2 linked regions of the Homo sapiens genome follow. The protein of the gene in region 2 interacts with the protein of the main gene of each other region in a pairwise test. Each region holds a gene or a part of one and is shown on either strand. Other genes may lie near its edges. The genes, in order: FOXP2 and SP4.

Region 1 (15,992 bases), about 93 Mb from region 2:
GTGATTCTGGCTCCTTGAGATTTAAGACAAGGACCTAGCCTAAAGAAAAAACAGGATAATTCGGGTTTCCAAAGTTACTACAACCCATTTTTTTTCCATAAAAAAAGAAAGTGGCTTTATAAAGAAAGGTTTCTCTGTTACATAGGAAACAACTTTTTATATAAAGATCTATAATTATTGCTTTAACCTAGAATTCTGAAACTCTTCTGACAGTAAATTTTGATTATCTGTTGGTGTATGTTAGGTGTCCCAACAGGAAAACTTCATTAGCAAATCCTTTTTCATGATAGCACCAACATGTCTTTTGCATTAGAACTTTCACCATCTTACCAGCTGCCTCTCTGCTGTATTGTCAACTCTTGCCTGGATCACAGCTATAGCCTTCCAACTGTCTTCCTGCTATTACCTTGCCTTGAATATATGAATTTACTCTTCATGGAGTATCCAAGTATTCTCTCTATAAATGTAAATTAGGTCATGTCGCTTCCCAGGCAAGGCCTCCAAAGGCTTTCGAGAATACTTAGAAGAAAACAAAATGACAAAACAACAACAACAACAGAAACAAAAACAACCTTTAATATAGCCTATGGGGCACTGCACTTATTATCTGGCTCTTGCCTGTCTCTCTGATCTCATCTACCGCTCTCTCTTCACTTTTCATTCTGTTATACCAGCCTTCTGTTGCTTCTCAAATGTATCAAACATTTGCTCCCTTTCCAACCTTTGCTCTGGTTGTTCCCACAACCTGTTCTTGGCTTCCTCCCTCCCTTTACTTAGATGGTTCAAAGTTCACCTCCTCTAAGTTTCCAACCATACTATCAACCCCTGCCCCTCCCCACCCTCCCTTCTAGCATTCCTTAACTCCTCATCCAGCTTTTTTTTTAAAATCATGTAACAGTTTCTGAAACCATTTAACCTATCTATCTATCTAGTCTACCTCTTGTTATCACCAGTCTCCTTCTAATACAACTGAAGTTTTATAAGAGTAGGAATTTCTTGTTTTACTGGTGTATCTCCACTGCCTTGAACAGTGCGTGGCATGTGCTCAATAAATATTTGTAGATTCCATTGATTATAATAGAGTCATACATTTCTTGAAGACATGTTGGTGCCCACATGGAAGTTTTGTGACTCTTAAAGGGCATACTCTATATGAATATTGCTACAATACAAGACCAGTGTCTAAAGAATTATATATGGCACTAGTTGCTTCTAACATAGATTGAGTGGCTAACAACATTTTATATCTCAGTTTAAGACTCTTAGATGGTTTTAGAGATTATACCAACTAACGATGTTACTGGTAACTCAGTTTTTGGATTTTATTAATAATTTAGTTATGTAAGTATCCACTTGCCTTCTAAAAGTAGATTTCTATGATACTATTCATTTGTACTGAAAATTAGTGATATAACCGTGCTATTGTAATGAAGTAACAAATGTCAGGCAGTTAGTAGGCCCTCAATAAATATTAGATGAATAAATGGCCTGTTCAAATAATCCAAATAATGTTTCTTAATTAAAAACAGGAAGACACAGTGTTAAATTATATAATAGATAAGAGGCAGAGAATAAAAGAAGTCAAAAAATTCCTTTTAGCGGCAGTGGATCCTCAAATGTCTGCATATTAGAATCACCTGGGCATATTTTAAAATCTCTAAAGGCCTTACCACAACCCACACCAATAAAACCACAATTTTAGAGGGGAAACACAGGCATTAGTAGTTTTTGAAGCTCCAAAGGTGATTCCAATGCACAGATAATTTTGGGGGGACATTTTTAAAAAGAAAACTATTACCTTGCTCTTGGGACAAAGCTTTCAACCTAAAAATTGCTCAGCTCTTTTATATGCTTACAAAACTACTTATGAAATGTGAAACAACTAGCCAATCGATTTTGTACAATTTTGAAAGTTTTATGAGCTTTGAAGGCTTGATGGTTTGCAATGATTAATCTAGGTTATTCTTGAGGCAGTAATATAACAAGTTCAGTATTTCCAAAACAGTGTTCTATGGAACAGTAGTCTTATAAATGCTGTTAATCTAAGAGATCTGTGGTCTCTGTCTTGGGGACTTATTATTCATGTAAAATAGTTCTGAGATGTGTAGTAACAAGGAAAACCTGAATCTCATTTTGAAGTCAGCGTTTTCCAATTCTATTTGAGCAAGAAAAACCCAAGAAACTCTTTATAATTACACTAGTTTGCGTAAGTTTTAAATACCAGGTGTAAACTTAGGAGTCACCAACTGATCCCATCCCATACCCCTCCCAGTCTTTCTATTTGAAAATCCCATGTAACCTTATCCGTTTTCTTAAACTTTCCATGTTCAAAACTAAGCTCCTGTTTATACAGCCCCCTCCCTCAACCCCAACTCAGTCCTCTTTAGAGTTTTCTTTGTCTCTGTTTTATTTAACTGATACTTACATAGTGCTTTTGATATGGCAGACATTCTTCTAAGTGCTTCACATATGATATCTAATCTAATACCCCAAACCATTATTATCATTATTATTGCTCTTATTATCCCTATATTAGAGATGGGGACACTAAGGCAAAGAAAAGGCCTTGCTCTAGAGCTACTCTGTCGCAGAGCTTCCTCTCATTTTCAGGTCATTACTCATTAACCCTTTTCTCAGGACTCCTTCTGAGGGTCACCCCATTTTCCTATTGTTACTTAGGCTTTTCCTATTCTTGCCTTTATTTCTCTCCTTAGCGCTCACCACTATATATTTTACTTAACTTATTTATCATCTGCCTTCTACACTAAAATGTATGTTTTATGATGGCAGGGATTTCTGTCTGTTTTCTTCACTGCTATATCCCCAGTGTCTATAAGAGTGCCTGCAGTCACAGAAAGCTCAAAGAATGTTACTTGAAAGAGTTTTAAAATTTGGCCAGAACACTCGTGTACTGGCAAACATACTCTGGGAATCTGTGGACTAGACTATTATGATTAATAGACAACTTTTATCTTAAGTGAAGATTATTCGGTTTCTCTTATTTCAAGGATATATATACTAGTAGTGCCAAAAAGTTTTGTAATTATGCAATTTTAAAATTCCGTGGCCACAAAAAATTGGGAATCCCTATTCTACTTTTGGTTGATAACTTGGGCTTGTGCTTATTCACTGCCAGTACCACAAATATTAAAAGGTTTTTACCACAGGAGCTGAGTAAATGAAAGGGTAATTCCTTAATCAAATTGTCTATCATACCACAGATAATACAACTTAATAATAATTCTTAAGACATGGTCTCGCTGGAGTGCAATGGCATGATCACAGATCACTATAGCCCTGACCTGGGCTGAAGTGATCTTCCCTCCTGAGCCTCCCAAGTAGCTGGGATGTGACCGACCACAGGCATACGTCATCATGCTCAGCTAATTATTTTATTTTTTGTAAAGATAGGGTCTCACTATGTTGCCCAGGCTAGTCTTGAACGCCTGGGCTGAAGTGATCCTCCAGCCTCAGCCTCCCAAATTGCTGGGATTATAGGTGTGATCCACTGTACTTGGCCTAATAATAATTCCTTAATCCCATATTCAGAGTTTGTGGAGTATCTACAAGATGACAAGCACTGTGCTAAGAATTAATTAAAATTAATTCATATCTAGATTATATGTCCTTAAGGCACACGAAGTTTAAAAATGTCTACGCTAGTTTCAACACAGCTTTGAAAATGCTGCTAAGATGATTTTTACTTATCACTAAAATAAGTAAAAAGCAATTTTTATTAGTAAAAAATCTCCTTGGCAGCTTTTTTACACTCAAAAAAAAAAAAAAAGATTTTTTCAATGTCATTTCTTTTTCTGTGTCCAGTAATTGATTTTTAAATGTTAAACAAATAATTGTATATATTATGATGCAAAGTATGTATACTGTTAATTTTTAACTAACTTATTTAGTGATACGCTACTTATTTTCTAAGGTTACTTATAATTTAAAGTAATAAAAGTGAGTTTTGGTAGAAACATTTGTATTATATATATTCTGTTAAGCCAAATTGATATTTAATATTTGAATTTGAATCACTGAGATATTACTATGTACTTTTCAGTTTTCATCTTAAATTTTGTATTTTAAGATGTGAAACTTAAAAACTGGTATACATACATGGCCAGAATAATTGAATCACAGAAAAGGGTATATATTACAAAAGTAAACTTCCCTACCAGCCTTGACCTCTGGATACCCATATCTCTTCTTCAGAAGAGAGTCCCAGTTTCTGGAGTATCCTTCAGAGATCTGGGTGTTCATTTATAATTTGACTAACTCAACATATTATTGATTTATATTTGACTAGAGGTCTACTATCACCTACAGATACAATGCCTATCTTTAAAATGCTTGTCTAATGAGAGGTGAATTAAATACATGCTTTGTCCAAATGCCAAATTTAGCAGAAGTAGGTATTCAGCTGAAACTGAGATCAAAGATAAATTATCTTCTCCAAAGAAGGAACTTCTGGGATATGTGAATACATCTGATATTAACAAAAATTAGTACTATCATTTTTTATAGGTTGCATTTCAAAAGCTTGATGGATATTCTATTACAAAACCAATGATGTTTCCTTTTTCTCATCATATTTTAATATGGCAAAGTTGACACACTGCTTTCGAGTCTTCCTCTCAAGATGTAAAGAATTGCCAAATAAAACTTTAAAAAAAGACTTAAGAGATAAATGGAATTAAATTCATTTTAATGTTATACATTCTAGTTCACAAAATAATTCTACAAGAATTATAGAGTTATGATACAGTTTAATCTCAATCTTTTTACATTTTTTCAAAAACTAACTCAACATACTCAATATTTTTCTATATATGTAAGTATTTACTAGTTTTTTAAACATAAAATTAACAGCATTCACAGGTAGCTTGGCAGAGTTTTATACCTGCAATAATAAATGTACATTAAAACTTCAATTCAGTGATGAAATTTTAGCACATAAAGCACCAAATAAGATTTTTTCCCCAAGTTACAAATGGAAAACTTTGATATTTGAAAGGGAATACTGACATGGTAATATTTTTGCATGACATGGATTGTTCATATTGGTAGTGTTGTTGCTACAATTACATACAATAGTAATCTATGCAATCACAAGATCATTGATTAAGCAGTAAATCCAGGATGCCAGAAGTAGGCATTTGGCTACTTAGACTTCCATAAGCATAGAATGAAGCCAAAGCCAAACAGCTAATTTTGGCTGAATATTGCGCCCAAAGACTATCTTCGGCACAATTCTAACTTAGCCTAAAAACATTATATTTTATTTCAAATATTTCATTTTTAATTATTATTCAACCACTCTTATTCTGAGAATCTCTAGTTCTATAATGTGTTAATTCAGAAGAATCCAGGCTAGAATCTAGCATTCTCTGTTTGGTCTCTCAAATTGGAAAGGAAAATCTTGTCTTCTAAATAACTTTTATAAATTAAAAAATATGTAAAAACTTGGAGTGACAGAAAATCATCACCACATGTATTCCTATCCATATAGTCATAGTAAATGTGTGAATATATTGTGGATTAGAGTACACAAACGTTTATCGGATGTCACAAACATATCAATGTTTAAAGTTAACTTCATCTTTCCTAACCAATAGACAATTATCCTGGTTCATTAAAATGTTTCACTAAATTTCATTACTAGATAATATATAAACTATGTTATTCATATATTACATAGATTTATAATCAGTATATTATTCAAGATGGAACTATAAATCCATCCTTTCTATTTGACATATGTATGTATATACCTATATACCTATACTTATGTATATATCTATCATCTGTCTGTATACAAACCAAACATATACTTAGGAGATGGAAGTTTACTTGCCTAACTAAAATCCAATATTATAGTAATATTAATGATGACCTTAAATGATTAATATTTAAAATAATTTACACTAAGATGATAAATATAAAACTTTAGAGAGGAATGTAGATAAATCTGCTATTCTACCAAAATTCTTATAATTTTATTATTTCTCATTGTTATATACATATATTTTAATATAATTTAAGAAGCTGTAACTCTAAAAGTAGCATGAAGAAGTTGTGTTAAATTATAGGGACAAATAAAATATGACATAGTTTTAGGTCGAGCACAGTGGCTAATGCCTGTAATCCTAGCACTTTGGGAGGCCGAGGCAGGCGGATCACTTGAGGTCAGGGGTTAGAGACCAGCCTGGTCAACATGGTGAAACCCTGTCTCTACTAATAATATGAAAATTAGCCAGGCGTGGTGGTGGGCACCTGTAATTGCAGCTACTCGGAAAGCTGAGGGAGGAGAATTGCTTGAACCCGGGAAGGCGGAGGTTGCAGTGAACTAAGTTAGCGTCACTGCACTCTAGTGTGGGTGACAGAGTGAGACTCCTCAAAAAAAAAAGAAAAGATACAGTTTTAAAGACACAATGAGAACATCATCCATCATTGCACATTAATCCTACTTGGTTTTTATATGGCTATTTTTCAAGGCTAATCAACCAATCAAAAACCTGGTAAAAAGTGAACTGGAAACTGATAATAAAAATATTCAAAATACTTTTACCTTAACCTCTAACTAAGGAAGAAATGATTCAGGGCTTACACTGTACAACAAATATTTCTTTACTTTTTCCCCACTCTAGTTTTGGGATTCCAGCATAGTACCGTAACGCTAGGTTCCTTTACTGTAGCTGGTGTATTCAACACACAATGAGCCTCCACAATGATATTTTTCACACTTAATCATCTAAATCGTAAAAAACAAGACAATGATGCCGGTTTGTGTGGCTTACATGGCAACAACACAAACTTTGATCGGTGAACCAACTACATTTGTGGCCCTACAATTATTCAGATGGATTTTTTTAACCTATATTAATGAAAACATAGTTGAGTGATTTCATCTTTTTTCCTTTTTAAAATATAAATTTTCTGCTCAAAGACAGATGTTTTCAGATTTACTTTCCTTTCCCTAAATGTTCGCCATTTTCTCATTTTATCTCTCATATATCTTATCAAGGATAAAAACAGAAGAAAAGAGAGAAACAAGGATTCTATGAAAATAAATTTTAATTTGAATTCAGGTAATTTCTATTTGAAAACTATTAGAATGATTATATCATTATAAATTTCATTGTTCAGAGAGATGTTTTTTGCTTGTTTTGAAAGAATGTGGTTTCACAATATGTTTTAAACAAGTTACACTGTGTTTCTATTAGCACATATTTTAAACTTTCTTAAAATGTTTACTTGAATTAATAAAATAAGATTGTGGTAGATCATGCTTTTCTGTTGAGGAAATTCTCATATAATTATATCCTAAATACAGATTTCATTTGAACTTGACTGAAAACAAAAACAATATTTTTTCTGTTTTAGTATAGTTTCTATTGAAGAAATCCATGTTTACACTGAAATAATTTTATAAACTCTTTTCTTTTTTACTTTTTCATGTCTTTAAATTGTATTTATTTTTCTAAAGAAGAATAATTGTGAATAGAACATTCATTGATATAATGACGCTATGATTTATTCCAATTTTCTTTAGAATATTTATTCCAATATTCTTTAGAATAACTCAGAAAAACAGGCTTATTGCCTTGTTTTTCTTTTGCTATTTAAACTTTATCTTTTTTGATTTCCTAGGAGTGCTTCAATCAGGTGAATTAGAAGATTTGAAGTCAAGTGAGAGAGGAAAACCAGGGGGAAAAAAGCCAAAGAGACATTAATTTGATAAATAAAAAGAGAGAACATTACCACGATACTCCTGATTTTCTTTAGTATGTCCTTTAGAATCAGCAAAATGTGCAGCCAATGCTACTACAATATGAACTCCTCTGTGACAAATATAATTAATTTGAATTAATGTACATTTGGATTAATGTTTGTCCCAACAAAATCCAAATGCAAGTTAGAATATCCCTTTATGAAGTGTAATGATATATAACTTACCTGAATTGAGAATTTTAGCACACAGTCATTTGTTTACCATTATTTGTCTTTTATAATTTAAAACTTTCCATTTCCCAAAAGTGAAGGGTTATGAATATGACACACAATTGTATTATCAGAGTACCTCCAAATTTTTCTTACAGAAAAATAAGAATACAGTTGACAGATTTTTTAAAACTATAGTTTACAATACATGCATAGGCAATGTTATTTGAGAGAAAAAAGAATGGATATGTCCTGTGACATAGGATGGGGTTCTACAAAGCTTAACTTGGAATGTGCTCTATAGAAATTCATGAAGCCTCTCTTTAACATGTGGTGATTTCAGTGTGAAGATTAGGAACTTTTATCTTTCTTTTATCAGTTGTCCACCAAACTCCTATCAGCTCACTTAGTTAAATGGACTGCTGTCAGCCTTCCCGGTAATCCAATTCCCTGCAGATCCTCCTGTATATTCAATAGTGCTTGAATTGTGTTGCCCTTATAAATCATTTTGTGCCCATAAGACTAATAAATACACATTTAATATCTAACAAAAACTTGAAAGTTTTACTTCACACTTGAAAGCAGTATATGGTAAAATTTCTGAGCCTCTAGAAAATAGGTCATGCCACCATGTTAACAATCACGTTTTAATAATAAATTTGAAAGTCATAAAAACAAAATTTCTCAAGGTATAAGGCAGAAAGGCCATGAAATGGTAGAAAGTACAAGATTTGAAATGAAGAGTGCACAACATTTTGTATGTACCTTGAGGCAGCGATTGGACAGGAAGTGCTGCCTGGCCAGGTGGAATGGAGATGAGTCCCTGACGCTGAAGGCTGAGCAGATGCTGCTGCTGCTGGAGTTGTTGCATCTGGAGAAGCTGCTGCTGGAAGACAAGCTGCTGGGCTGCCAATTGCTGTTGCTGCTGCTGCTGCTGCTGCTGCTGGTATCAGAAAACCCAAACCAGTAAACAGCAGAGAACATGGTCTGTACAAACAGCTCTCTTACAGGGAAATGCACACTCCTTTCATTGCCTGAGTGGGTTTTTTGGTCATCCCATAGTCAAAGTTCAGGGGCAGAATGTGAGTAAGTTCTAGATTTTCAGTTGCCTTTCTTTCAATTATTAAATCGTGTTAGAGAACCAAGGAACTTGCATCAAAAAAGTATGGAGCAAGGTCTAGAGATAGTATGTAATAAAGGTTCAGCTTTTTAAAATCTACTTATTGTAGATAATAATACATTTCTCTAGATTAAAAGAACACTACTTTACAGAAATAGTCAACTTCTACGACACACTTTTTTTTTTTTTCCAATTGAATAAGTTTGATCTGCAGAGGTCCATGAATGTGGTCTCTGGTGATCTATTAGTAAACTGGGATGTAGCCTTCATAGGATAGGCCTGTTAGCTCTCTCTCTCTTCTCCTCTCTTGTTGGAATATATTAAAGGCAGAATTACGTTCAAGGCAAAATTAAAAAAAAGTGCCCTTATTATAAGAAAAAGTATAACTTCCAATTTTGTGAGGCATTACAAGACAAACCAGAGGTCTTTGGACTCCAGAGGGTATGAGATGGCAGTCACACTTCAGAGAAAGACAAGCTGCTGTGGAAGACCTTTCCTTTTTAGTTTGGGGAAAAGAGAAACTTCTGATGCGCTCACTGGAAAACAGACTGCATAATGGAGCAAGTCATGTGGATTGCCCAAAGCCTCGGGAGAAATAAGGGAGCAATTTCTATTCTGTAGTTGATGGCTGTCTGAAATTCTATTCACAAATCCAAACAGAAACAAAGCCTCAGGAGGTCAAAACTGTTTCCTGTACGTTTGCATAATGGGCAGCTTGAAGACAACGGCTCTGATACCTGCTGATCAATTTAACTACTTCAACATGTTTTGTTTGTATTATGTTTATATTTGATGCAGTTTGCTGACAAGTGCAAGCTAGGCCTGAGAAGCCCGCTTGTCAGTTTGATTTATGAGCATATCAAACTGTAACTTTCTACTCGCCACTCTCAACCTACAGTAGCAGTTCATTAATCAGGGGCCTGTGACTTTGAAATCTGTGCTCAACCAGTTTCTCCCTTAGTCTCCCTATCCCCAACAATAGGCCAAATTTGCATGCATGTTCTCTGAGCTGCACCACTGAGAAAAATAAGGTTCCCTCACCAACTTAGATTCTCCATGAATACAAGATAATCAGTACTTTGTCCACCACACAGCTTGCTCTTTGTACTGTGATTCATTAGTGAACATTAGACGACAGCAGCATTAGATTGTAACTCTCAAGTCCCATGCTACAAAAAAGGAGAGCCTGAGAGCCTATCACTGTTACTAAGCTCAGTAAAAATATATAATACTGCAACTTTGACAGCAAGAGCCTTGTTATAGGAAGATCTAAGACTATTCTTGCCGCTCAAAGCCCCTTCTTAACTGCAAACTGTTATGTATCAATGAGATAACCGGATCCTACCTCTTTCGCTTGCTTTCCAGGATGCTGTTGCTGCTGCTGCTGCTGTTGCTGCTGCTGCTGCTGTTGTTGCTGCTGTTGTTGTTGTTGTTGCTGCTGCTGTTGTTGCTGCTGTTGTTGCTGCTGCTGCTGTTGCTGCTGCTGCTGCAAAAGCTGAAGATGTAACTGCTCTTGCTGTTTCTTGTAAAACTCTTGTAGTTGTTGCTGAATAAACCATTTTGACTTTAATAAATAAAGGCAAAAGTTTCACGTATTATAAATCTCCTAAACTCTTCTAGACTGGCATATGGCAGAGTATCCATTAAGATTCATCCCATAAAAACAACAAAAAATATACATTGGATTCAAAGAGACAGCTCTACATACATTTTTTTCCAAGGCAGCTCTGAAATTTTCCAATCCAGAATCCAAAAAATCCTAAACAAAAGGGTATAGAAAGTCTGTATTCTAAAGGGTCAGAGCCAAATTAATACTTTAAATTATTACATCTGAAGTCCTACTGACACATAAAAACTAGGCTATACTCTACCAGTTGTAAGAATAAAAATTTAGCTACATAAAATCAGGTTGCTCAATTCTTATTGGAAAAAACTTAATCCATCAGATGTTCAGAACAATGTCAGATTTACAAGTAATTGGTCTGTAGTCATCAGCACAGAAGTTAGCAAAGTAATTATATATAAAAAATTTCAGGTAAAGCACATTATTTTCTCTCTAATAAGTAAGTGTATAATATAAAGTCTATATACACTCAGGGTTCCGATATGGTATTTATTAGGAACACTATGTTTGTTATTTTAAAAAGATAAATTTCATAAATTTGTGGCTCAGCTGCCTAATTTCATTATAATAAATAGATTCTTCTCTTTCTAAACGATGAGTATACTATGAAAAGGAAAATCTGGGATGTTACTTTCTCCATTTTAACAAAGTGGTCTATTCAAATTTCATACTTTTGTGAACTAAAAGGAATGCTAAGGTGTTAGGAGTTTTAAAAGCAACTATTATCTGGTAAGTATTTTTGCATTTTTTTGGCAAGTCAACAAATTGAATGTACCTAAGCATTTGAATATTTAAATATTGGCTCATTCCATTTTCAAATTACACCTCTCTCTGCTCTTATTCTAGACTTTAATAATTTTTTTAAAAAAATAAGCAATCTAGATTTTCTTACGAGTTCTATAATTAAAATGTTACATTTATGTTCTAGCACGCTAATAGGTTGTCCTTTCAAATGGAGACTGAATTGTCAAATATGCCCACTGCACTTTCAAAATAAGTGCACACCTTCTAAGTCATGCTAGAACACCAAAGCAGGTAACCCACATTACCTGCTGCAGCATGACAGCCTGCTGTTGTTGGAGAAGGGCTTGTAGCTGCTGAGGAGACAGGACTTGTTGCTGAAGGATCTGCTGCATTTGCTGAGGGGTGATCACCTGGGGAGTCATCATGGCCACTGACACAGGCACCTTGCACAGAAAGAGAAAGAGAAAGAAAATTCGTGGTCATAACCAAATATCTGTTAATCAACTTCACAAATAGTATGTTATCTTTTATAAATTCTTTAGCATTGATGATCAATAATTTTTACGTCACATTTTACTATAACTTCTTTACAATAGTACTAAAGTATCACAAAACATAGACACTAGCTTTCCAGAGGCATCAGATTTCATCAAACTCTTTATGTTCCATAGCTCTTATTTAACATGCTTAGATATTTGAATTTCGGCTATAATATCTATAGTTAAAAATAAACAACCACATGGTGGTGTTCTCAATATTTCATAATTGATCATCTCATCAATGTCACTGTGCTATAAATACAAAGGTTTTTGAAATGTCTTAAGTGTAATTAAAATAAATATTAAAGATTAAAAAATTGGAAATATGCATATAAATGTTATCTAAACTAGTAAAAAGCATGTATACAGTATACTTACTTAAAAATATAATCATCATCTTCAAAATTTTATATACACATGATAAAGTACTAGAAAATAAATATAGTAATAAAATTTAGCATATGACAACATGTGATAATTCATATAGGAGATATATATATATATGTGTGTGTGTGTCTGTGTGTATATCCAGAAAAATAATGACATACATAGGTCTTCTGAAAGAAGAACTCATATAACTAGTATTCTAGCTTCTTCTTTAAACCTTTTCTTATTTCAAGCAACTGAGCTTATAATAGGAAGTACAAAAATTTAGCAATTACTCAAAGGTTATTCATTAAACTGAAAATAATAAAAGTAATTTACTTAAAACTTTTTTCCCACTACTTCCTTTTTCTTCAGGGTTCTGAGGATGAGAGGCAAAAAGAAGATAGGGAAGGAGAAAAAGATATAAAGGAGAAAGAAGGAAGGAAGTAAGGAAAACGTAGAAAAAGGACAAGCTAGTGGGAAAGCCCTAGAGAAAGACAGAACGGATGTGAAGAAATAGGAAGAGGATGGTAAGAGTGGTGATCAGAAAAACTGGTATAGAAACCTAAAGTATATGCTCAGATAGAAGGCAAGTAACACTGTTTGAGGCATTACTTGTACTAACCAGTATGCAATCAAACAACTTGTCAACTTTCCAAGTTTGCAACCTTTGAAATAGTAATCACTTTCCTAGAAAAAACAATTCACTTTTACTGTAAATAAAAGCAAGTATTTATATAAATACTGTTTTAGAACAAATTTATTGGGCAACATGTCTTTCAAAACCAAAAAAGATTAAAAGATACGGTTCACAACTTATTTTAATTGTTATTTTTAATGCAGTTCAAACTTTTCCAGTGTGGCACTTTATGTTATGGAGAAAGGAGAAATTAATAATGAAAAGAGGTTAGAAGAAGCAGAAGAAAAAAAAAAAAGAAATCCAGGGTGGATTAATTCTTCCTCCAAAAAGAAATAAAGAACTAAATAAATCAAAACCTTTCATATTTAATACTGAAAAATAGCAATGTCTTTTCTTTTCTCCATGTTAACATATTCAGATTAATTAGATCAAATTGAGTAACTTGAAACATTATGACAGAAATTCAGTGATTTTAAAAAATATTTCTGTATTTTTAAGGAATATACTGGCATACCTATAAATTACTGAATTTGAATTTATTATAATAAAAAGCATTCTGAAATGTATATTGTAAAATTAATTCACCAATGGGTTTTTCAAGTGTTTAGTTGTTTTATAAAATTGACTGTCAATTTACTTAACTCCTTGTTCTCTGATAAACAAATAGAATGGTTAGAACAAGTAGTGAGAAAAAAAATGTATCAATCTACAAAAATGTCTTTTCTTCGAACAATCATTTACCTCATACTATTTCCAAATAGGAATCAAACTGAAATGGACAGAGAAAGATAGACATATTAAACTAAAAAGGCTGTCAATCTAGATAGATAGATAGATGATATAGAGTTTATAGACATGTACATGGATATATATAGAGAGAGAGACAGAGAGAGAGAGAGAGAGAGATATGCCTTCTATAAAGTTAATCATAGATAAGAAGCTTGTCGCACTTTTCTTACATAACCGCTCCTTATTTTTTCAGTATATAGCGTTTTAATTATCCCTTAATTATTCCTATACCTACAAGTACAAATACTTTATGTATAATGATAAGTGAACTTTATGGGGAAAGTTCTATGAATGGAGGTATGCCGTAAACCACTACGAGTTTACAGTCAGATTTCAGCTTATACATATAATATGACTGTAGAGTTTGTTGCTATTGTGATCGATTTGATAAATGAGCAAATTTAAGCAAGTTTTCTATCTTCATATTCTTTAGGGTATACTAGTCCTTACACTACACAAGTTAGATGATTATTTTTACTCCTAAAATGGTTTGAGTGCCTTTCAATTAATAGTTATGACATAAATATAACCATGAAATCATTCTCTTCTTAAGATCATATGTTTTAAATGGTCACATGTATGTGATTTTTTAAAATTTTAATCAGATTCTGGCCTACCTTCTAGGAAACTGTCATCTAAAACTGACAATATACAGATATAAAAATAAATAGAAAGATGAGCCAATTAACACATACATGATTGAACACTCTACTTCTATGTGTACAAAAGACATAAATTAAAATTAATTATATAGGTAGAAAAACACAGGTACACTTCTGAGGGTTTTCTAACACTACAAATAAAGTAATACTATCATCTCTAAATCCACATATATAAGCTCACCCAAACTAAGGAGATTACTAAAAATCTAAGTTATTTAATAAACAAAAAACTAGTTTTTTCTACAACAAAGGTCAGTAATATTGCAGACCCGTCCACTTGCAATTTGAGAAATGCATAGCCTTCATTTTTAAGTGACTCATTTTAAGCGACACATTTCCTCTTCTCCTCCCTCATCGTTTCTTGTTACTGTCCCATTTCATTTACTTGCTACCACAAGCTACTCTAGGTATTCATTGATAAAAATGAATAAAGATTAATTGTATACATATAAAAATGTAGAGATTATACTACTTACCAATATTTAAATAGACGAAATCAGTATCAGCCTTTTAAAAATTTATGGACAATTTTTTTGAAATACATATACCTTAGCAAGTTCGGTGTTAGACTAACGGAACTATTTTTCGCTAGATATGTAATTTGATTCATGCAAATATTCTAATAAGGGATCACAATTTAGACGTGTGACATAGAAGAGGAGGGAGAACTTACTTCTGGTGAGAAGGCAAATAAAAGTCTGGTGGCTCTACCACCAAATGAAATCAGAAGAAATAGCTCGTTTTGAATGGGTATTTATCAGTTAAAATTTTCAAGTGTGAAGGAAGGAAATAGAGTCATCTTTGGTTGGGAGATTTTTTTCTCTCTTGGTATTTACTTTGCTGACAGATTTAAAATTCTCCTTAGTGATGCACCAAACAAGGGTCTCCATTTACCCTTATTTATTATCTCATTACATGAATTAAGCACAAACCCGACATGCTGCTCTGTGCACCAAGAAGTATTACTTAACTGAATATAAAGATAGGTTTATGCATTCTAAAATGAGAGAGGGAAAATTCTGAAACTGTCTTGCAAAGAGTCAGTGGTAAAAGTAAAAAAAAAAATTTAGGTATTATCCTAGAATAGGTAAGTGTATTACAATTAATATCACCTATTATTAATAAGTGATATTAAATATAATTATATTTAGTTATGACATAAATATAACCATCACATCATTGTCATCCTAAAATCATATGTAAATCATAAAAACATATATATTATAAATGTGTTTATATTAAAATTTAAAGTATATGTCATTGAGGAGGTCAAAAAAGTTATTACGAGACAATGCAAAGATCATATCTCTGTTCAAATGCATCTAAAGAGTTATTGTAAGAGTTATGAAAACAAACCAAAATTTTTGTTTTACATAAGCACAGTCTTTTCACAGTCCAGTTCAGTTGGAGCATTTCTGAATGTGCTGGGCTTGCATATTAAGTGCGTCCCTTAATTAAACATCCCAATTATGTGTGGGAGATTGGAAAGGTTCTTAGTATAGTGTCAGTCCAATTCTTTCTTCACTAAATGTGAATTGGAAATAGCAGTCACAATCTATAGATGACA
Region 2 (15,992 bases):
ATACATTTTACAGGAATTTTTGAGTCAGTCTTAAGTATCCTGAAGTGAAATGACTTTTCCACTTGCATTTTCCCTTGATTTTCATGTTTCTCAGCAAAATCTTTAAGTAACTGCATGGGCCTTTTTATTATCTTAATAACTAAAATAATGGTTTTGGGATTGGGTTTTTCCATCCACATACTGGAAGTCTGAAGCATGGGTAGAGAATAAACGCACCTACTCAGGGTGCACATTAATCTGGGACACCAGTATAACCACACTGGTTGGTTATTAAAATATTGACATAATTCTATACAAGGAGGCAATTCCATACAATAAACTTCTAGTTCCTGACTCCCCTACTACTACCCCATGACCTCCCCAGAACCCAGCAACTAAGGGGAGGGAGGGAGATTGCTCTAGGACCTTCTTCCATTACTATGTCCAGCATCCCTTCTGACTGATGAATGCTGTGCTGTGTTACAATTGAACACAAGAATAAAAGTACTTCCAGCTACTTATCAAATTGGTGGACATATTTACACAGACTTTTAGTACAAATTGGCATCCACAATATCGTGAAAAGCAGAGCAAAACAAGGAGAAATGAGTTTTTTTCTACAGAACCCAAAACTCTGTTCTAGTCATAACTTGCTCCATAGAAACGAAAATACAGGCTGAGCACGGTGGCTCACACCTGTAATCCCAGCACTTTGGGAGGCCGAGGCGGGCAGATCATGAGGTCAGGAGTTCTAGACCAGCCTGGCCAATATGGTAAAACCCTGTCTCTACTAAAAATACAAAAATTATCAGGGTGCCTGTAGTCCCAGCTACGTGGGAGGTCAGGAGTTCTAGACCAGCCTGGCCAATATGGTAAAACCCTGTCTTTACTAAAAATACAAAAATTATCCAGGCGCCTGTAGTCCCGGCTACATGGGAGGCTAAGGCAGAAGAATCACTTGAACTCGGGAGGCGGAGGTTGCCGTGAGCCGAGATCATGCCACTGCACTCCAGCCTGGGCAACAGAGTGAGACTCCATCTCAAAAAAAAAAAAAAAAAAAAAGAAAAAAGAAAAGAAAAGAAAATTTAAACAAGGTTGTAAGTGATAATCAGAATAGGGCTTAATTTTCTAACAATTTTATGTCTGTCCACATAATTAAGGACAGAGAATAAGCAACTATAATGCCAAACCATAGTAACATAAATTTAATTCTGCCTTATAAACTATAAACATATATGATGCTCCACCTAACATGTACACACATACATTTCATGTGTACATATATGAACCTGACAAAGAATAAGCTAATGTAAAGGGCTGCAAAAACATAAAATACATTAAAGTGGTAACTGTTTACAGTATTACTGAATTGGGTTGGAATCTTTTTTCAGTTAGCTTATTCTTTGCCATTAGATTATTTTCCTCAACAGTGATTTTCAGACTTGTTAAGGTGACCAAATACTTGGAAGCCATAATGCCCTTCACACAGCACCATGATTTACTGATGTATTTAATTCCAGCATAACATTATACAAGCAAGGAACAATTTTACCAGCAGAAAATATAACGTTATTATGTTTCCACATCTAAACATCTAAAAAATACTACTACTATAAATAAAATATTTATGAAACCACAATTCATAGCAGGATAATAAATAACAAAATTTGAACCAAGCCAACCACCTAGAAAGACATGATTCAAAGACAAACTGGCGTTTATGACAACTGCTCGTTTAATTTTCTCCTGTTCCCTATAATTTGCTTTTGTCTGATCTTAACACCCACATCTGATTTCTTAAGTCTCTGACCCTGACTTGAAACCTGTTAACTTGCTTCAGATTACCTGAGCCTCGGCTCCTCCCCGTAGATATGGTCTCAATAGACTCCAGTATCTCTGCAACTGCTGGCCTGCCCATTCCTAGGCATAGGGTAAATGGATCTCAAGGAGCTCCAGAAATCCAGCTGAGGTTGGGATGCAAGAAGGCAGAGTTAGCATAGAAAAGAAAAACAGCATCCCTTGTGCCTGAATCTGACACACAGTAAGTGCTCCATAAATGTATTAATTGGAAAAAGCATCTCCAACAAAGGTAAGCTTGGGAATGAGCAGAGCAACTCAGAGTTAAGAACAGGATCTGAAGCAAAGGTAAGAGTTAAATGGGCAAGAAGGCTGTAACTGGACAACTGAAGCTACAGCCAGCAGAGATGCCTCAGCCTTGCAGGGCATTATAAGTTTAGACATTTATTCTATATCCTATCTTATTTCACAAAGAATCTAAAAAGCAAAGTAAAAGTAGAGCATCCTATTATCCTTTTCTGAACCAAGTCTGAGAGGAAGTTGTCTAAGAAACTTTTGAACTCCACATTCCATGTTTTCTTTTTTTGGCTGCAATTTGGTAGGTAGCTGAAAAGAGGGGTACATTTGCCCTGTATGCCTGGGTTTATTTAACACATATATTTCTAAATATAGAGAATGCTTTTAAATATAGAAAATCATCCACACATAAACCCACAAAAGTTAGTGAACAACACATGAGCAGCTGTTTCTGTTTTTCAGTAATTGGTTTGCTTCTTGTTCACCGGTGTGCTTGTCTGTTATCACTTTGAGGTAGGCAAACAGTAATTGTAATTAACATTTAAAAATTAGGAATTAGGCCAGGCGCAGTGGCTCATGCTCGTAATTCCAGCACTTTGGGAGGTGGAGGCAGGCGGATCGCTTGAGCCCAGGACCAGCTGGGCATGGTGGTGTGTGCCTGGGTGACAGAGTGAGACCTTGGCTCAAGGGGGGGGGGGGAAGAAAGTAACTAAGATTTAAACCTTTTATTTTTCTTAGAATTGGAAAAAGACTGTCATAAAATTTTGAGGTAGAGTATGGCAAAGTAGCTCACAGTTTGAGAAAAATATGTTTGAATTTGGAAATTCCCACTGAAATTTCATTTTTAAAATGGGATTTGAGAATTAACTTTTTGATGTATTGTTGCCCATTTTCAAGACATTTCAGCATTGGTCCAGGTGGGAACTATTCCATGCCCCCTGCTATGGTCTGAGCAGTTGTGCCCCCCAAAAATTCATGTTGAAACCCAATTACCAATAATATTACCAGTGATATTAAGAGGTGGAACCTTTGAAAAATGATTAGATCATGACAGTAGAGCTCTCATGAATGGGATTAGCGTCATTACAAAAGAGGCCCCAGAAAGTTGTCTTGTCCCTTTCACCATGTGAAGACACAGCTAGAAGTCACCATCTATGAACCAGTAAATGAACACTGAATCTGCCAGAATCTTGACCTTGGACTTCCTAGCTCCGAAGTGAGAAATAAATTTCTGTTGTTTATAAGCTACCTAGTCTAGTTTATCTTGTTATAGCAGCCCGAATGGACTAAGACACCCGTCTGCCTTTTGGGTTAACTTATAATTAACAATAATAACGTATTAAACACAACTATGTGTTACTCAATATAGTTTTCTTGTTTGATCTTAACAGACCTATGTATTATTCATAATGCTTAACATTAATAAGCATTGCTCTTTTATTCTATGAAGTAGAAAAAAATAAGTGCTTAAAAGTTCAATAACTTGCCCACGGTTGTGTGCCTACTAAGTGGCTGAACCAGGAATCCAGCCTGAAATCCTCAGACTCTCCGTTGATCTCTTTTGGCACGGTGCTTAGCTATTAACCAGGGAGATCAACCCACTGCATTATAAATAGGCCTTTATGCTCCTTTTCCTTTCCTTTCTCTCTTCCTTCCTTCCACTATTTCTGCTTGACATTACTCTCAGGTATCCAAAAATAAATTATTTCATTGCCACCTGTTACTAAGAGGAACAGAGCCCAAGGTTTATGCTAATCAGCCAATCTTAAAAGAATGGAAAATACATGCCTTAAAAGTCCTGCTACCGAATTACAAGTTGGTTGTGTGTATATTAAGCAGACATTACTGTTCAGGCAGTAAATATAGCAATATATTATTCAGTTTCACAAAGGAATAAAGTATTTCAAGTTTGCTGTGACACTTGAAGTCTCTGCACCCCTGAAATTAAGCATCTGAACTTTTAATTAAAAAATAAACAATACTGTATATTTTTCTATTTTCAAGTTGTCATTACCAATGGCATTGTAAACCACACCCTATTAGTATTGCTTTTAGCACTGCTTCAGCTTTCCTAACTTACTACACCAACAGCTTTTGTCAATTTTCAAGGTGATTTATCCCTTTTTCTTTATTATTGTCTTTTTCATGTGGCTGAAATTTCTAGAAGTACAAGAAGCAAACTATATTAAAAATTGAAAAACACAATGACATTTTCTAATTGCATTATCCTTTTTTTTGAGACAAGAGACTCGCTCTGTTGCCGAGGCTGGAGTGCAGTGGCGTGATCTCAGCTCACTGCAAACTCCACCTCCTGGGTTCAAGCAATTCTGCCTCAGCCTCCCGAGTAGCTGGGACTACAGGCGCACGCCACCACGCCCGGCTAATTTTTGTATTTTTAGTAGAGATGGGGTTTCACCATGTTGGCCAGGCTGGTCTTGAACTCCTGACCTCGTGATCCACCCACCTCAGCCTCCCAAAGCTCCGGGGTTACAGGCGTGAGCCACCTCGCCTGGCCTGCATTATCCCCTTTTATACGATATCATCCTGATGCTTTCTAATGCGAATTTTTCAGGTAATTGAAGTGTATCTTTACTTTGGATAGAAAACATCCTTTGACAATTCCTTACTGTCTTATTTGACAGAGTAGCATAAATTCTTTGATTCAGTCAGTGTTATGAACACATTATTTTACAAAGTTGTAACACAACTATGCCTTTAGGACCTTGCTGTACAAGGTTCTCTGTCCAAACACCTTGTAGCCCCTGCTTACTACCTAAAACCTAGAGTCTTTGGAGTCTTCTGTCAGTGGGCCAGCGTACTTCTCTTGCTGCCTAACATCCTACCTCCGCCACCCTGGGCCAAACCCTCGCTTTGCTATGTCTATATCTGGTGTGAGTCTGGAAATGTGTTAGCTGAAGTTGTTACAATAATGTATTCATTATGTTACTAAAGGTCTTCATGAGATTTGCAGGGCTCTCCCAGGAGGAAGACAGTTTCTGCTTGTAGTCTTTGTGGCATCTATGTGGCCTATATTGCTTCTCAGTGATTCTGTGAGCTTAAATAATATTTTAATTATGTTTTTCGTTTTCAGGTCTTCCTATAATTTCCTAACATTGATTGCTTAAAATATTTAAGTAAAAAGTGTCTCTAAATCAAATTTTAATTTCCATAAATGTCTAGAGCAATGGCTACAAATTAACATGCAATTTGAATTGGAGTTCTTTGGCGGTATGTTCAGAGAAATGGTGACCAGATCTCAATACGAGGAATTACGAACGGTGGCCAATGTGTTCTCCAGTGAGAAGCATTTAACTCTCCAGTGTTCATGATAAGTAGGTTGATAGTTCAAATAATTTATTGCTGCTTTATAGTATACATAATTAAATGAAACATGTTAAACTCAAGGGAATTTTTAATAGGTTACTTGCAATTGTTATTGCAGGCAACAACTTGTACATGATTTTATTTCCAAATCCACAAAAAACAAATTTTATACAAATCAGCACTGTAAAAATGTCAATTACAGCCCCAGAGGCTTTGCTGGCAGAATAATTGTCTAAATTCTAGAATATGGGAAACAGGTTTTTTTCTGGATTCATCTTTTTTTTTCATTTTTTTTTTTTTACAAAAAAAATTTACAAGTGAAATGTTACTACAAAACTTTTTATAAGGAATTTTTGCAAAACATTTACATTTTACCATCAACTATTTCTGTTTTAAAATCATTATGTAGATTTAATACCCTATGCTGCACATCAATTTATGTGGGATGACAACTTAGTGACATGCATAAAAAAACACCACAAGGCATTAAAATGGAGACTTAAATACAAATATTGTTGCAATAAAACAGTTATAAAATTGAAAAATAGGACCTAAACATCATGCTTATCTAAGTTTGACAAATTAACTTTTTCTCCTAGATTACACACTTTTATTACTGCTCTCATGAGAGTGTGATAAATGACTTAACATCAAGTTCTAATGTAATCAGCAACACATACACAAACCTAACCAAAGAAAGTATACTGTAAGAAAAAACTATTCTAACACTGGAGTTTTACCATGATAAATACATAGCTTTGCACTGATAATTACAATAAAGAAAAGTTTTATAACGGTGGTAAAGGGAATGAACAGTGAAATGCCATTAAACAAGACTCTACTGCACATCTGTGCCCTATTACTTATAACAGCTATATCCCACTGAGTCAAATAAAGGACACTGAAATTTACGATTCTTCTAAAGACAGAAAAGTAGACTCAGAATGGTATGCAGAACAGACTGTCAAAATATTTCTAATTTCAGTGGTGAAATGTGCACCTGCTAACACAAATTAACATATTTTATATGCTATAAAGCTATCTAGATTCATCTGATAAATTTATAATAGGCCTCATTGTTGATTAAAAAATAACTTCCATTTCTAATGGACATACATAGGTTTGCATTAGAACTGGTTCATGGAATAATGATGCAGAGTGTTCATACTTGGTATTAACAACAACAAAAAGTGTCACTCTGAGGAAACATGATTAAAACATTAAGAAAGTTTCTTTGCATAAAAAAATTTATAGCACTGATTGTGTAGCATAATGATAGATAAAATATATATTTGATGTTTCAGCTCCTATATAATAAAATTAAAATGAACACTACCAAATGCTCCTCTGTACCAAACAAAACAACAAACCAATTCTGATGTTTTAAAGCCAGATACATCAGTTGTTAAGAGTACATTAAATAAAATATACAAAACAATTTACAAAATCCAACTTAAATTTAAAGACTCTGTTACAAGTCTACAAAAGCTTTAAGAAACTTGAAATTTATAACCACAGTGTAAAAATTTTTTTTTTCCTTTAATCTCAAAGCTTTTTTATACAAACTGAAAGCACAAAAGACCTTCAGTTTTATATAACGCTACAAAGGGCTGGCCTAAAGTGTACATAGTGTAAACAGTGATCATTACAGTATTTCTCCTTCATCAAAAATACAAGAAACATCACAATTTTGGAAGAGAATTCGCATTAGTACTTTTCCTGAAATTATAGAGAATGCACAAGAAAACACGTACCTATATTCAAACAGTCCCCAAAGCAATGATGTTAATAAATTGAGCAGGTAGGTAAAAACTTTTAGTTTTCAAATGGTCAATTTCACTGATTATGATTCTGTGTAAATACTTTTTTAAAACATAAAATATCCTTATTAATATTTAAGTTACTGGTTTATAATCCAATTTTTTTCATATGAAACTTTTGGCCATCTTTCCTAGTAAGACCCTTTCCTAGCCGGGCATGGTGGCTCATGCCTGTAATCCCAGCACTCTGGGAGGCCGAGGTGGGCAGATCACCTGAGGTCAGGAGTTTGAAACCAGCCTGGCCAACATGGCGAAACCCTGTCTCTACTAAAAATACAAAAATTAGCCAGGCATGGTGGCAGGCGCCTGTTAATCCCAGCTACTCAGGAGGCTAAGACAGGAGAATCGCTTGAACCTGGGAGGCGGCGGTTGCAGTAAGCTGAGATCGTGCCATTGCACTCCAGCCTGGGCAAGAGAGCGAGACTCCATCTCAAAAAAAAAAAAAAAAAGACCCTTTCCTGTAAGACCCTTGCATAAACAATAATATAGTTTTTTTCTTTAGTCACTTACTTCACTGAAAATTATTCTGCCTTTTCAAAAATAAAAGTTTTGCTTCATAATATATCTATTATATATTAGGCTAATTTTTAGGGAAAATTCAGTTATTGATGTAACATAAAAACATTACTGTGTTATAATTCCTAATTACCTTCTTACATAGCACTAGAAATAAAATGGGACTGGCCAATTTTTAGTAGAGGAAAACAAGAATTACAATGTAGTTAAAAGAGAATTTTCTGCTGGCCTTGGAAAAAAGTGTAATTCTTTCTTTGGCTACCACATCAAAGCATAAAGAATTCTGCACATTGTCAACATAACTCATATTTACAAAATATGAAACTACAGAACAATTTACACTCTATGCAAATATTTCCAAATATAAACATTTTAAATGAAATTTTGTGGTTCAACCTAGGGTTAGGAATATAATCAATCCTAACTTTAGAACATTGCATGTTAAGATGCCTCATTTTATTTTTCTGAAGCTATGATGAGTTTTGTTTTAACCATTTTTTTCCCAGCATTTTCCTAAGGTGTCAACCTAAAATTTAACCTAAGATTTAACTCTATGTTCCTCTTGTGTCTCCAAATGGAGAAAGTAATTGGACTTCACTGATTGTCTGCATACACACTACTATAATGTAGTGGTAATAAAGATCTGAGATGCATCTCAGATTACTGTTTTGGAACTTACCTAATTCAACTGTTGAAGAATTTCTAACATTTAGAAAAGACGGCCAAACTATTTTCGGTTGATTTTCCAAAAATCAAGCTAAGGAAATACAGTATTATCCCTATCATCAGTTAACTATCTGTTTTCTGTGCTATAGAGAAAAAGAATACACGTAAATTATTACTGACTGAATTTATAACAAAGTACTTTCAAAGAAAATAAGTCCAATTAAGGTCCAGCCTGCAAACTACTAAGGTCTTTTTAAACATGTTAACACATGATATTAAGAGATGGGAAGATTCTGTATAAAGGTTATGTGATATATTTCCAAACAACTACAACTTATAGTATGGAGGAAATACTTTTCTGTTTCCAGTACATCAGTCTGCTTTTTGTATTTTTTAAAATTCAACACTTCACGTGTTGACCCCAAACCCTGGAATACTTAAAGAAGCCAAGAATGAAAACATAATTTCCTACTCTGTAATCCACTTGACCAGCCCATTTCCAGATTTTCAAAGGTGTGTAAACAAGTGCAGCACTAGAGGTCTCTGTTATAAATAACTTTTCAGAATTCTTCCATGTTGGTTGAAACATTGGGAGTTGCTGGATTCGAATCTTGAGAAATGGCTGCAACTGTGACAATTCTTGGGGAGCCAAGCACCTCTGTAACAGATGAGTCCAGTTCTCCCGAGGTAACAATGGCAAGAGCTGTCCCACCACCTTTTTTATTCTGGTGCGTTTTGACATGTTTGGAGAGATGATCACTCCGCATAAACCTTTTAGAACATTCCGGGCATTCAAATCTCTTTTCACCTACATAGAAAAACAGTAAATGGCGTTATACACATTTTGCTTAAGTGAAATTATAATTTTTAATAATCTCCCTTCTGGTCACATTATATGACTTTTTGTACAGTTTCACTAGTTGCAAAATGCTTTGTTTTATTTAAAAACGTTATCAAATACACAATGCAAAGAGAAAGACCATGTGATTGAGACGAAAAGACCTGAAGTTTAAGTCCTGCTTCTGCTATGAACTGGAAATAAAAGCTGGAGCAAGTAAATAGCCACTGGAACTCTCAGTTTTCCCATCTACAAAGCAAGAGGGTTTTTAGCAGACAATTTAAAATATCTCTATCAGATGTAACAAATATATATAATGTTCAAGGCTCATGTCCACTCTTCTTCAAAACTGCTAACCTGGGTTTTAGTTTTAATCTTGGAGGCATGAAATATCTTGGAACTATTTCAAATAAACTAAGTTAATAATTTAATAGCATACTGAGTTCTTTACAAGGCAAAAATGGGAGGCAGGCACATGCTACATTCAGAATTTAATAAAGTTTTTAGGTTTCATAAGATAACAGTTTCTGTTGTCCAAAGCAATTCTTAAATATGTTTTCTTCAAAATATAAGATAGTTTTACTGGACCGACTTCTTTGTTTTGGAATAAAAGCTAGTTTAATGTTAACTAAAAACAAAAAGGCCTTTTTGTTTTTGTGTATAATAAATGAGGCATATCAAAATTTGGTTAACTGGTTTATCCTGATGTGCACAATGAATAACTGTTAGCCGTAGATCTTCCCTCTAAAATTGTTACTTAAGGGACTGAAATGTTGTTTTCCCAGTCTGATAAAACTTGGGTAATAAGTGATAGGGTTTGGCTCTGTGTCCTCATCCAAATCTCATCTTGAATTGTGCTCCCATAATTCCCACATGTTGTGGGAGGGACCCAGTGGGAGATAACTGAATAATGGGGGTGGGTTCCCCATACTGTTCTTGAGAATAAGCCTCACAAGATACGATAGTTTTATCAGGGATTTCTGCTTTTGTGTCTTCCTTATTCTCTCTTTGCCTGCCACCATCCACACGAGATGTGATTTGCTCCTCTTTGCCCTCCACCATGATTGTGAGGCCTCCCCAGCCATGTGGAACTGTAAGTCCAATTAAACCTCTTTCTTTTGTAAATTGCCCAGTCTAGGTATGTCTTTATCAGCAGCATGAAAACAGACTAATATAATGAGAAAATTCAATTTGGATAATTTCTTTTCTTGGCCCTGCTTTTGACTTACCAATAAAAAAAATCTATAGGCTCAAGTTGGTCCACGTCAGATATTCTCTCTTTTTCTTTACATTCTCTTTTTCTTTACGTGTGTGCTTTTACTTTTGAGTAAACTTTGAAAAAACCATTAGTCTTCCTTATTATTGTTACAAACAAATATTAAAACTTACAGGAGCACTGCACTCAATACAATATTGTATTAAACATCCATCTGAAGTAACACAAAGAAGATGCACCTCCATGTCATACCACACACCAAGATACATGCTACAAAGATTTAAAACCAAGTATTAAAAAAAAAGGAAAATATTTCTATAACCTAGAGTTTGAAGGTACTTTAAAAAGTACAACAGGTTATTTAGAAACTATAAAAGAGAGAATAGACAAATCTGACTACACAAAAATAAAATACTTTGTATGACTTAAGATTCCATAAAGTTAAAGGAGAGAAAAAAAAGGTCAACAGAAGCATAAAAACAGTGTGATAAAATTTAACACATTTTGATAAGAGCTCTTGGCAAACCAGGAATAAAAATTTATTTCTTTTACCTGCTATACCCCTACATATAATTAATGGAGAAACTTCTGAACTATTACTTTATACATCAGGAACAAGATAAGAATGCTATTATATATATCATTACTATTTTCAACATAATATGAAACATTCTGACGAAGCCAACATATAAGACAGTAAAATGAACTGAGGTACAATCACTGGAAGAAAAAAATTGAAATAGATTATTATTTACAGTTATTACTATTTACATAAATAATCTGAGAAAATAAACAATTAGAATAAATTTGTCGTGGCCAGATTCACAATCAATCGATAATAAGCAACACCATCCATTAATTATATAAATCAACATGTAATGCAAATGTTGAGGCTACAGTGAGCCACTGCACTCTAGCCTGGATGACAGAGCACGGCCTTGTCTCAAAAAAAAAAAAAAAAAAAAAAAGTGTGTAGACAAGGCCCTGACCCCAGGTCAAACACAAACTCTATGCCAAGCCACAGTTGGCAAGCCTGGTCTTGGTATCTTATTCCAGGGTCTAGCTAGGTTCTGACAGGAGGAACCTGGGATTTCTCTGTACAAAGGTGGAGGCAGTGGCCTACTTAAAAAAACAAACAAACTGTATTTAGGCTGGGCGCGGTGGCTCACACCTGTAATCCCAGCACTTTAGGAGGCTGAGGTGGGTGGACCCTGAGGTCAGGAGTTTGAGACCAGCCTGGCCAACATGGTGAAACCCTGTCTCTACTAAAAATACAAAAAAAGTAGCTGGGCGTGGTGATGCACGCCTGTAATCCCAGCTACTTGGGAGGCTGAGGCAGGAGAATCGCTTGAACCAGGCGGGGTGGAGGTTGCAGTGAGATTTGGATGCTAGGAAATAAATTACCTGCTGTAACTGCCCCGGGTGTGCCTGCCTACCAGACACTCCATCTTGCAAGACCACCATTAAAAGTCTCGCTTCCATTGTTTGTGTCTCCAAGTCCATTCTTTGGGTTTGGACAGGTGAATCTGTGTTTCTCACAAACCTGGGGGCCTGTCTGGGATCTCTGTGCCTGCATGGAGTGGGACTCCAGCCGAGAGGGCAGAGGTGTCCCACCCGATTTGGGTGGCCCACTCTGTCCGGGCATCCTGGCTCCCCACAGAAGCCACAGACAAACCTGAGACTGTTATTCAGGAGGCAGCAGAGGCGACACAGGGAGAAAAGCAGGCACTGCAGCAACCAGGCAACCTCGTGCAGAAGCCAAGGGAGGAAAATTGGACTGTAAGTACTGTCTTGGTGGTTGGGCATTTTCAGAGGTTGAGTGTGTGTGACTGAGATGTACCCTAGATATGAAGCAAGTGCAGAGTCCCAATCCATGGTTCCGTTCTCCCGTGAGGAGAATGGACAAAGAATGGCCAGAGAATGGATGAAGTGATTCCATGGGTGTGCAAGAAACCTCCAGTAGGGGGTGCTGAGAACACAGGGAAAAGCTCAGACACAGACTGACCAAAAATGGGAAACAGAAATTCTAGGCCTAGGGGACAAGGGAAAGAGGGAGCCAAAGAGACTCCCTCTGACATTTACCAGCATAGTCCTATGGCCTAAGTTTGGCTCAGATAAAAATTAGGTGTGCCAAGCTTTAATTCTCTATGTGAATAATAAAACCCCAACCTCACAAGAGACAGGTTATGCTCTCTGCTGGATCAAGGAATTAGCCCCATATTCCCACTTAAAGAAGAAGAAAAAGAGCCTAGTAAAAATCCCTCACCCAGGGAAAAGCCCTGGGACCCTATCATCCATGCCCCTCCATACATCTCACAAAATAGGGGACAGGAAAATCAAGGGGCAGCAGGAGGGTTAGAGGAGGAAAGACCTGGACACCATGGCGGAGCCAAACCAACTGCTCCTCTAAATCCTTATCCAAATTTAAGAAAAGAACACTGTAAGAGGGATATTGAGAACTTCCCTATTCCTTCCACACAGCAGGCACCTAGCATGTTCCCTCTTAGGGGAGTTCCCATGGGACAGGGAGAGACTGGCTTTGTAAATGCTCCTCTTGCAAGTATTGAAATTAGGAATTTCAGGAAAAAAATGAAACCACTCCTAGAAGATCCACTCGGTTTAGCAGACCATCTGGACCAATTCCTAGGATACAGCTCTTACACCTGGGCTGAAATGATGTCCATCAAGAATATCCTATTCATAGGAAGAGAAAGGGGAATGATCAGGAGAGTGGACATGACCATCTGGGAGAGGCAACACCCTCCCAGGCAAGAAGTCTCACCAGCCAAACAAAAATTTCCAAATGTTAATCCTGAATGGGATAATAATGATCCCAGGGACTGCGCCCAAATGTAGGATCTCCAGGAACTAATAATTAAAGGGATCAAGGAGTCCACTCGTAGGACATAGGACACATTCACGATTCAACAAGAAAAAGAGGAAACTCCTTCTGCATTCCTATATAGGCTCAGAGATCAGATGAGAAAATGCTCCGGATTAGATCTAGAGGACCCAGTAGGGCAATGCCTTTTGAAGGTTAACTTTGTAATTAAGAGCTGGCCTGACATTACCAAAAAATTACAAAAGATTGATGGATGGAAAGAGAAACCAACTGAGGATTTACTGAGGCAAACTCAGAGGGTCTTTGTAAGGAGAAAGGAAGAGAAGCAGAAACAAAAAGCAAAAATCATGGTTTCCACTGTGGAAGAGGTAGTCAGAAAAGACTTACATCAAGATCCCCCACTTAGGAGACAAGGGAATTATAGATTTCAACACAAAGAAAGAAGGGAAATGCAGGGAAAAGGTCCTAAGACTATGAGTGGATGTTACAAGTGTGGAAAGACAGGGCATTTGAAGAGAGGATGTCCTAAATGGAAAAAAGAAAAGGTGATACCCCTCATGACTATTGATGAAGACTAGTCGGGGGCAGGAGCACCTTCTGAGTAGATCCCACCAGGAACCCTTAATAAATTTGAAGGTGGGACCTGAGGGAGAAGTGACATTTTTGGTTGATACTGGGGCAGCTCACTCCTCCCTAATTCACCAACCAAGGGCTACAGAACTCTCTAAGGAAAAATTGAAAGTATCAGGGGTAAAAGGGGAGGGATTTCAGGTTCCAATATTTAAGAAAATTTTAATTACATCAGGAGCAAAACAAATTGAGGCGTCACTTGTTCCTGAAGTAGGAACTAACCTCCTGTGTCGAGACCTGATTGTGAGATTGGGTTTAGGATTAGGAATAGAGGAAGGACAAATAAAAGTAATGATGGGCCTCCTGACAGAGGAGGAGGAAAGAAAAATTAAATCCCCTTGTGAGGGTTAGGGAAGGCAACAGAGGGTTAAAAATCACACCCTTACAGATTAACCTAAAACAACCAGAAGTAGTTTGCAGAGAACAATATCCCATTTCCACTGAAGGGAGAAAAGGTCTCCAACTGGTAATAGAGGGATTGATTAACGATGGACAATTAAAACCCTGCATGTTACAATACTCCAATTCTCCCAAAGAGCCTGATGGGTTGTATAGATTGCTACAAGATCTAAGGGCTATAAATCAAACTGTCCAGACCTACCACCCTGTGGTGACTAAACACTACACCCTCTTTAGTAAGATACCCTATGAACGTAAGTGGTTCAATGTGGTGGATCCAAATGATGCATTCTGGGCATGTCCCCTAGACTTTAGGATTAGGGAACCTCTTTGCCTTTGAATGGGAAGATGCTATAACTAGGAGAAAACAACAGTACCCCTGGACTGTGCTGCCACAAGGTTTCACAGAAGCCCCAAACGTATTTGGTCAAATCTTAGAAAAAGTCCTGGAGGAATTTCAACCTTCCAGGGGAACCCAGTTGTTACAATACATAGATAATCTTTTAATTTCTGGGGAGAGGAGGACCGAGGTATCAGAAACCACCACAAGCTTAATTTCCTAGGAGAAAGGGGATTGCGAGTATCTAAGAACAAACTGCAGTTTGCAGAAAAAGAAGTTAAATATTTAGGACACCTGATTAGTGAAGGGATGTGAAGAATAAACCCAGAGAGAATACTGGGAATAGTGGGTCTGCCTTTGCCTAAGACAAAAAGAGAACTCCAAAAATTTTTAGATTTAACTGGCTACTATAGGTTATGGATTGACTCATATGATCAAAAGACAAAGACTCTATATATCAAGTTACTAAAAGAAGAACCCAATCCCTTGCAATTGTCCTCAAAGGAAATTCAGGTGGTAAAAGAGCTAAAGCGGGCCCTCATTACAGCCCCGGTCCTGGTCCTCTCATCTTTAGAGAAACCATTCCATCTGTTGGTAACAGTGGATCACCCTTGGGGTGCTCACTCAAACCTGGGGAGGGAAGAGGGAATCTGTTGCTTTTGCCTCCAAGCTTCTCGATCCTGTCTCTCAGGGGTGGCCCAAATACGTGCAAGCAGTGCTGCCACAGCCCTGCTGGTAGGAGAGTAGAAAGCTAACCTTTGTTGGGGCCCTAATAGTAAGCGCTCCACACCAGGTCAGGAATATATTAAACCAAAAGCCGGGAGATAGTTTGAACACGTTCTTCATAAAATATGAAGCCATATTATTAAGAAAAAAAATTATTTGCTTGTAACAACAAATATTTGCCTAAATGCAGCCAGTTTCCTATGGAAAGGAGAGGAGATCAAAGACATCAGACCAGAACTGCTTAGATATCATAGAATAACAAACCAAAGTAGGACCAAACCTTAGGGAAGCTCCACTACATGATGGGATAAGGCTCTTTGTGGATGAGTTGTGACGAACGAGAGATGGCAATGCTGTCACTGATGGAGATAAACACTCCCTATGTGAGAAAGGTAGATTACCTAATGGCTGGTCAGCCCAAATCTGTAAATTATATGGTCTTAACCCGGCCATAAAGCTCCTTAAAGCCAAAGAAGGCACTATATATACTGATTCTAAATATGCTTAATGGGTTGGAACACACTTTTGAAAAAATCTGGACAGAGCAGGGTCTAATAAATAGCAGGGGAAAATAATTGGTACCTGGGGAACTGGTCAAACAG

What was found.
Region 1: the proteins of SP4 (region 2) and FOXP2 interact in a two-hybrid assay, tested with the Homo sapiens proteins (2 studies listed by BioGRID).

Annotation. Positions count from the first base shown.
Region 1 is NC_000007.14:114,624,420-114,640,411, reverse strand, and holds part of FOXP2 (forkhead box protein P2), read right to left. Parts: intron 11,873-15,992; coding exon 11,735-11,872; intron 10,821-11,734; coding exon of another isoform or gene 10,770-10,820; intron 10,608-10,769; coding exon 10,407-10,607; intron 8,885-10,406; coding exon 8,707-8,884; intron 1-8,706. UniProt on the Homo sapiens protein: Transcriptional repressor that may play a role in the specification and differentiation of lung epithelium. May also play a role in developing neural, gastrointestinal and cardiovascular tissues.
Region 2 is NC_000007.14:21,504,237-21,520,228, reverse strand, and holds the end of SP4 (transcription factor Sp4), read right to left. Parts: intron 9,208-15,992; coding exon 8,960-9,207; 3' UTR 5,407-8,959; downstream 1-5,406. UniProt on the Homo sapiens protein: Binds to GT and GC boxes promoters elements. Probable transcriptional activator.